Linked DNA regions of Homo sapiens. The protein of the gene in region 1 interacts with the protein of each later gene in a biochemical or structural test. Each region holds a gene or a part of one and is shown on either strand. Other genes may lie near its edges.

Region 1 (4,564 bases):
AGGCATACTAGATCCCATCATGCAGCTCCCTCAGGGTAGAACCGCCTCCAGGGACCTACCTCGACCCTGGGTTACATCACCCTCGAATCCTGGGCTGTCAGTTGCATGGTAGCCTCTGCCGGGACAAAGGCCCATGGCTGCTGCATGAAAGCCCAGTTTCTTTCTTTTTTTTTTTTTTTGAGACGGAGTTTCGCTCTTGTTGCCCAGGCTGGAGTGCAATGGTGTGAACCTGACAGGGTCAAGCAATTCTCCTGCCTCAGCCTCCTGAGTAGCTGGGATTACAGGCGCCTGCCACAACGCCCAGCTAATTTTTTGTATTTTTGGTAGAGACGGGGTTTCACCATGTTGGCCAGGCTGGTCTCGAACTCCTGACCTCAGGTGATCTGCCCACCTTGGCCTCCCAAAGTGCTGGGATTACAGGCATGAGCCACCTGTGTGGTGGTGACTGAAACTTGGCTGAAAGCCCAGGTTTTCTTTTTTTTTTTTTAATTTTATTTATTTATTTATTTATTTATTTATTTTACTTTTGAGACAGAGTTTCACTCTTGTTGCCCAGGCTAGAGTGCAATGGCGCGATCTTGGCTCACCGCAACCTCCACCTCCTGGGTTCAAGCGATTCTCCTGCCTCAGCCCTCCTGAGTAGCTGGGATTACAAGCATGTGCCACCATGCTCGGCTAATTTTGTATTTTTAGTAGAGACAGGGTTTCTCCATGTTGGTCAGGCTGGTCTCGAACTCCCGACCTCAGGTGATCTGCCCGCCTAGGCCTCCCAAAGTGCTGGGATTATAGGCGTGAGCCACCGTGCCCGGCCTGAGAGCCCAGTTTCTAGGGAAGAAGCTTCTCAGGGATGTGTCTCATGCTTCTGGGTTTTTAGCCAAGGCCTGGGGGCCAGGGAATTTTTAGGAAACTCTTCACTGTCCCCAAATAAAAAGACTTGCTCCCCTAAGCTTTTCTCTAGTTTGTATTCCAAGGGAACATCCTCCCTCCCTCCTCCTGTTTTTGGTCTACCCAAACTTCACCCAGGCTTCTAAGCTCTTTTACCCTTCCCCATCCCCGGTAGCCTTCCTAAGTACATCCTTCCTGCTCAGGGGCTCCTAATACTTCTCCCCGCATAGCCCCTGAGTTGGGGAAGATCTGGTCTGCCAGACTGGTTTCCTAAGTAGCACCTAAGCAGCCACCCTTCTCCAGGGTAAGAACATGATTTCCATGAGACATTTCAAATTCCAGATGTAGCCCACAGAACCCCATTGCTTCTTGGGGGCCGCAAATTAGAGATCATTGGTTGATGGTGTCTACCAAATGTGACTGTCATCCTGTCATGAGTCCTGCCTAAATGCCTCCGATGATGGTAATATTAGCATTTATTGCCTCTGCTTACGAGGCATTGTCCTAAGCACTTTTACATGTATTAACTTACCTAATCCTTACAATAACTCTAAAATGTAGATACTGTTATTCTCCCCATTTTATTTTATTTATTTTATTTATTTATGTATTTTTGAGACGGAGTCTCGCTCTGCCATCCAGGCTGGAGTGCAGTGGTGCGATCTCAGCTCACTGCAACCTCCACCTCCCTGGTTCAAGCAATTCCCCTGCCTCAGCCTCCTGAGTAGCTGGGATTACAGTCGCATGCCACCATGCCTGGCAAATTTATTTTGTATTTTTTAGTAGAGACGGGGTTTCACCATGTTGGCCAGACTGGTCTCGAACTCCTGACCTCAGGCAATCCACCCGCCTCGGTCTCCCAAAGTGCTGGGATTACAGGCATGAACCACCGCGCCCGGCCGTATTATCCACATTTTACCTGAAAGGAAATGAAGGCACTATGAGGTTAAGTAACTTGCCCAAGGTCACAAGGCAAGTTAATGGCAGATTTACACCCAGGCTGTCTGGATCCAGAACCCTCACTGTTAACCACCACACTACATCACCTCTCACGATGCAAATTGTGTGGCCCCATCCTATATTCTGAATCTCCTCTCCTGCCTGGCTGGCTATATTGTCTATTTCAGAATCTTTGCTCACACCACTCTCCCAGCCCAGAGCATCTGTCCCTCTGCCTCTCCAAATCTCATTCTGCAGGACTCCCTTTCTGCAGCCAACCCTAACTGCCCCACCTTCACTGCTCCCAGCTAGCCTGGGAGCTTCCCAAGGGCAGCACAGGCCTGGACCCTCCAGATGCTAGATAGAGACACTGTGGACAAATTTAAGTGAGAGTGGGGTAAGAAGTACTATGCTGCTCCCTTGGGGTGGGGAGGTGCTTAAAGTGGAGGGAGAGCAGGCCATGTGGGAGGAGGAATCCTGGGAGCTAGTGTGAAAGGAGTCCTAGCGAACTTCTCAGGGAGGCAGCAAGGGGTCTAGCATGGAAGGTCTTCACTGCTTCTCCCAGCCCCTGTGAAGCCCGGTTCCTGAGGCCCTGGACCCATAACGCAGGCCCCAGAGGATATCATTGTCCTCTGATACCCAAGTCAGACCTTAGAGGCACCAAGGGCATTGAGGGGAACAAGGGATCCCTGCATCCAAAGTCAGGCGGGAGCACAAACAGGGAGGGCGAGCACAGGAAGTGGGACCGCGATGATGGACGACCCCTGAAGCAGCAGCTCCCTAAACCCGCTAGCGGGACACCCGTAAGCGTCCAGAATAGTGGGCCCGAAGGCACAGGGATGCGGCTGTGGCCTTGGAGGACACATGACGAGGCAGGCCTGAGCAAACTGGATGTGCCTTGATACAGGCCACGGCGAGAATCAGAGATGGGGGTCCGACGGGCCCCGGGGGGGGTACCGTGGGGGAACACATCGGACGGGTACCCTGGGTCAGCGCTCTCCGCGACTCTCCTAGCCCTGGGCCGGGGGCAGGAGGGGAAATCACCTGCTCCGTCGGGCGCCGCCGGCGACTTGTCCCGCGCGGTGCAGCTCTCATCCCCCAGCCCCACCAACGAGATCAAAGGCGGGGCCCAGAGCGGTTCCCTTCCAGAGGCGCCGTGGCGGCCATGTTTGAGAAGGGCAAGTTGCCCACAACAGGGCGGAGCTCCTGCTCTAATTCTCTAACGTCCCAGGGCTATGGACGGGCTCCCTTGGCGGCCAGTTTTGTTGCGCGTAGGGAGGCGTTAGGCGTGAAGGTCTTGAGAGGGGGTGGAGTCGAAGTGGGTAGGACTGCATCCCCGTCTTGTTCCTTCTCATCCGTCAGAGACCCGAAACCTTTCTCTTTCTTTCTCTCTCTCTTTTTCTCGTCTCTCTCTCTCTCTCTCTCTCACTTTTTTTTCCTTTTCTTCTTCTTTTTTTTTTTTGGGAGGGAGCCTCGCACTGTCTCCCGGGCTGGAGTGCAGTGGCGCGATCTCGGCTCACTGCAACCTCCGCCTCCCGGGTTCAAGAGATTCTCCTGCCTCAGCCTCCCGAGTAGCTGGGATTACAGGCGCGCGCCACCACGCCCAGATAATTTATTGTATTTTTAGTAGAAACGGGGTTTCACCATGTTGGCCAGGCTGGTCTCAAACTCCTGACCTCGTGATTCGCCTGCCTCGGCCTCCCAAAGTGCTGGGATTACAGGCATGAGCCACCGCGCCTGGCCTCTTTTCTTTTCTTCTTTCTTTATTTTCCTTTCTTTCCCTCCCTCCCTTCCTTCCTTCTCTTTCTTTTTCTTCTTTTCTTGCTGTTACAGCCCCAGGCTGGAGTGCAGGTTCACGAGTGCGAACATGGCTCACTGCAGCCCCGACCTCCTGGGTTCAAGTGATCCTCCCATCTCAGCCTCTGGAGTAGCTGGAACCACAGGCGCGTGCCACCACGCCGAGCTAATTTTTTTTTTTTTTTTTTTTTTTGTAGAGACAGGGTTTTTGCCACGTGGCCCAGGCTGGTCTCTTAGGTACTGACTTCCCCACCCTGTCTGTACCTTTTGCATTCCCTTAACAGCAATGTCTCCCCTAGATTGGGGTGAGCTACAGGTCTGTGTCTCCGGAGGGTGGAGCCTGGGATTTTGGACGTGGTCTGGGAGAGGTGGAGTGGTAGCAGGTGCCAGGATGAGGATCCACCTGAGCCCTGTCATGGACAGCCTGTAGACCATGCCTACCCCCCGGGGCCTTCATCCCCCATGTTGGCAGGGCTGCTTGTCTAGGACAGGAGAGCTGAACTCCAGGGCCCAACAAGACTTCAACTTCCTCTTTTTGTTCCTGCTGCCACAGATTCCCGGTGCTGCCCTGTGGGGAAGCCCCACAGCCCTCCCCTCTTGGGAACCCTGAAATGGGTCACAAGGGGAAGAGTCCCCTTCAAGGATAAAATTTCCCATCCCCCATCAGCAGGGATGAGCCCTTTTTAGTGCTAGTTCCTTCGTGGGGTGCTGGGGACCCGGAAGCTGTCCCTGCCCTCAGGGAGCTCACAGTCCAAGAGAGAAGTCCCATCTTTCCTCTCTCCTAGGGACTAAGGCAGTGCCAAGATACTATGCTGCAGTGGCTCACACCTGTAATTCTAGCACTTTGCAAGGCTGAGGTGGGAGGATCGCTTGAGCCCAGGAATTTGAGACCAGCCTGGGCAACATGGCAAAACCTCGTCTCTACAAAAAATTTAAAAAATAA
Region 2 (3,809 bases), on another chromosome or scaffold:
CAGAGCACTTACATTAGCCTACAGTTGGGCAAAATCATCTAACGCAAAGCCCATTTTATAATAAAAGTGTTGAGTAACTCATATGATGTATGAAATACTATACTGAAAATGAAAAACAGAACAGTTGCGTGGGTACTCGGAAGTAAGGTTTCTACTGCATGTGTATCACTTCCATACCATTGTAAAGTCATCTGACCACCAAGCCAAATATTTGTACTTCTGCACATGCTGCTTTACATAGAGACCGAGACAAAGGGGGATTCACATCTTGTCAACCCTGTTTACTTCAAAGGAATAACAGAGCATTAACTAGGTACCAAGTGCTCAGGACTTCAAGTATACTGTTTTATTTAATACTCATGACAATCCTTTGACCCCTTACTTGTGACTGGCAAGTTACCCAACTTTTGTTTCATTTTCCTCATCTGTAAAAACCGGAGAGTGATACACACTCCCTGGAGAATGACAGGGAAAACAGTACCAAGAACTTTAACCTAACAAGTCAGAAATCAATGAGACCCCTTTTGACAATTCCCACCTTGCCCTTTAGACATTCCGAGATATGCAGCTTTATTTAATAAATGACCCCACCTTGGGCCTCAGCTGACTAGACCAGAGGCAGACACTCTCCCAGGCTGGAAAGGCCAGGTGGAGTGAGCTGTTCTGTGCAGAATGATCTCCCTAACAGTGTTTTTACACATTCTGTTCCACTTGGAATTGGATTCAGAGTGTTCTCAGCCTCTGGTCATCAAAAAACCTGAAGACACATACCTTCAGGGAGCTAGGGTCAGCTCTCCTCTGCTGAGTGCATGGGGAAGTGACAAAAGAGAAAAGAGGGGGGAAAATCCAGCTGCTGAGAGATGTAGGGTACAAGAAGCTTTTGTAACTGTAAAGAGGGAGGGAGGTAGCTACGTTGGTCTATTTTCCAGTTCCTGGTTCCAACTATACCTAAAGCTTTAACTGCACTTTCTATCCTTGCAGTAATATGACAAAGGCCCCCAGATCTTAATCATAAACTTTTCATTTTCTATAATGCAGTCTCTACAAAGTAGTGCCTAAAACATTCCAGCACTCTACCCTACCTTTTACCCAGCTAGCTCTAAGTCTTCCTTCAGGTCCCAGCTTAAACACCACTTCCTCCCGGAAACCCTTCATGACTACTCAGAATATCTTATATCATCCAGTGGCACTCCACACCTCACCATACTCAGTAAATGTTATTACTGCCCTGTTGGACTGTAAACACCAAAGAGTAAGAACAACTTTTGTTCACTACTTTGTTCCTACTGCCTAGCACATAATCCGGTACGTGTTTAATAATATTAAATGAATGAAAATCAAGAAACTGGTAGAGGTAACTAGAAGGAATGGGAAGAAATCAATACTGCTTCCTGATAAAAATTAAGTTGCTAGATGACAGATCCTTTGGAGATAAAGAAAAAACAAAAACAAAAAACAAAGTTACTTTAACTCTAATCCTTTCTAGCCTCTTCTTCAGGTCTGTCTGCAATGGCATAATCATTTTATACTTTAGGGCTAATCCATTCAGGAACCCAGGCTGTAGGAAGTACGTTTCTAGGTAACTCGGTATAACAGAGAAAAGCCTATAGTAGTTAAAAGAAAAAAGGTCACAGGATTTGGGGTCTGCATAAATCTCAATTTACATCTCAGTTCTGCAATATACTTACTGGCTGTGAACCCTGAACGAGTTACCTGACACCCAGTTCCCTTATGTGTAAAGTGCAAAATATAATACCTCAAAGACAAGGATGACGGTCAGGCGCGGTGGCTCACACCTGTAATCCCAGCACTCTGGGAGGCTGAGGCGAATGGATCACGAGGTCAGGAGTTCAAGACCAGCCTGGGCAACAGGGTGAAAGCCCATCTCTACTAAAAACTACAAAAAAAAAAAAAAACTTAGCCAGGTACAGTGGCAGGCACCTGTAATCCTAGCTACTCAGGAGGCTGAGACAGGAGAACTGCTTGAACCTGGGGGCAGAGGTTGCAGTGAGCCAAGATCGCGCCACTGCACTCCAGCCTGGGCAACAGAGTGAGACTCTGTCTCAAAAAAAAAAAAAAAAAAAAAGACAAGAATGAGAATGAAGCTTAAACCAGCAAGGCAGGCTTGCAACTAACATTAGTCAGTTGATCATGGCATATTATCCATGCAGACACCTGCTATCCAGCTCCTACTGGCCATAGGTTCAAACCCCAGGGCCTGCCTTGAGTCTGAGAATCTGGGAGGGACCTTGGAGACCATCTATCCTGTGGGTTGCCCAACATCATTTTCAAAGCAATCAAATCCTTTTTCCAAATGGGATCTTGCCCTGCTAACCCTAATAGTTACTACCTATGTGAACTGAAGATGATAATGACTAAAAGGAAATTAAGAAAAAGAAAAAAGACTAAGGGCAGAGGAAGAAGGGAAACGGGAGGGGAAGGAGGTAGATAAGAGAAGAGCAAAGAATAGAAAAAACAGGGATTAGGGGAGAGAATGCTGTATGTGAAGTTTCCCTATTTGGGGTGAGGCCTGAAGCCCCTAAGAGAGGAGGAGATTTGAAAACCACAGACAGAGCCCAGTCCTTTCATGTTATAGCAGGGGAAATAGAAACACATAAATTTTGTTCAGCTGCCTATAGCTTTCTCCTCCTGTGGTTCTGCTCAGTTTCCAGAAAGCCTGGGTAACGTCTGAATCCTCCTGGAATCTCTCTTCTTCCTTCTGGTACGGTGTGGGCCATTTCAAAGCTCAGGCAGGTGGCCTTTCCTAGAGGGAGCAGAGACAGCGCAGCTACTGGATGAGCTCCTAGGCACCTTTCAGTGTGGGAGCCTCAAGAAGTGAAAGAAAAAAAGCAAATCTAAAGGGGAGCAAAATAGCATCTCAGGATTAGGCAAGAGGGTGGGTGGAGTAGGCCGGAGGCAAGGAGCTCTAGATGTTTGTTGGGGAATGAGGTGTTTTTCAATTAATAGGTATATAAATTGTGAGCAAGGTGAGGAATAAATTACATACAGTTTTGGGGAAAAGTCAACTTGAATTTACACAAATCAGATTATGGGAATGGTGTAATGGTTATAGCTAACTACCAGGAATACATCATTAGGGATGCTATTAATATAAAAATTAATTTTGTTTTGACTTATCCTTTTACTCTAAACTCTGCTCAGAAACACTAGATTCTTCTGTTACTCATGTAAGCTGCTGTCCTTGCATCTTTGAGCTCCAAAAGTGTAGAGGAGACTTCTTGATTAAAAAAGTTAAGTAAACAATGAGCAAGCAAAATTAAGAATCTCAATATCTCTGTCTCCAGGTCTAGAGTTTTTATATATGATATATGTTATTGCTGTTCCTGCCTTTCAAACAGGTGGTACAAACACCCAGCAGAGATCCATGAAGAGAGTGCATTAACAGGAAGCAATAGGGCAAAGTTCATAGAGATGAGCTTTAGAGAAAAGCGGGACTTAAATAGAGCCTGATGTTTCTTGGGGCAGGCTGGGGTGCTGTACTATGGGCATCTTGGCAGGATGATTCTCCAGTGGAGGGAGTGTACCGTGCAATCCAGACCATTTAGCATGTCTGCCCTTGACATGCCTACTGACGGCCAATAACACCCCCTAATCAACGTGACAACACAACAAAAAGCCGCCCCCCTATACATTTCCAAATGCCTCTGTAGCAGGGAGGTAAAATCACCCCCACTGAGTACCACGAGATAAAGTAGGCACAATGCGGCCAGGTGCAATGGCTCACGCCTGTAATCCCAGCACTTTGGGAGGCCGAGGCAGGTGGATCACCTGAGGTCAGGAGTTTGAGA

Evidence for each region.
Region 2: of the proteins of CUEDC2 (region 1) and MAPK1, one has a biochemical effect on the other in vitro, tested with the Homo sapiens proteins (one study listed by BioGRID).

What each region holds. Positions count from the first base shown.
Region 1 is NC_000010.11:102,429,658-102,434,221, forward strand, and holds the start of CUEDC2 (CUE domain-containing protein 2), read right to left. Parts: upstream 2,918-4,564; 5' UTR 2,869-2,917; intron 1-2,868.
Region 2 is NC_000022.11:21,857,412-21,861,220, forward strand, and holds part of MAPK1 (mitogen-activated protein kinase 1), read right to left. Parts: intron 1-3,809. UniProt on the Homo sapiens protein: Serine/threonine kinase which acts as an essential component of the MAP kinase signal transduction pathway. MAPK1/ERK2 and MAPK3/ERK1 are the 2 MAPKs which play an important role in the MAPK/ERK cascade.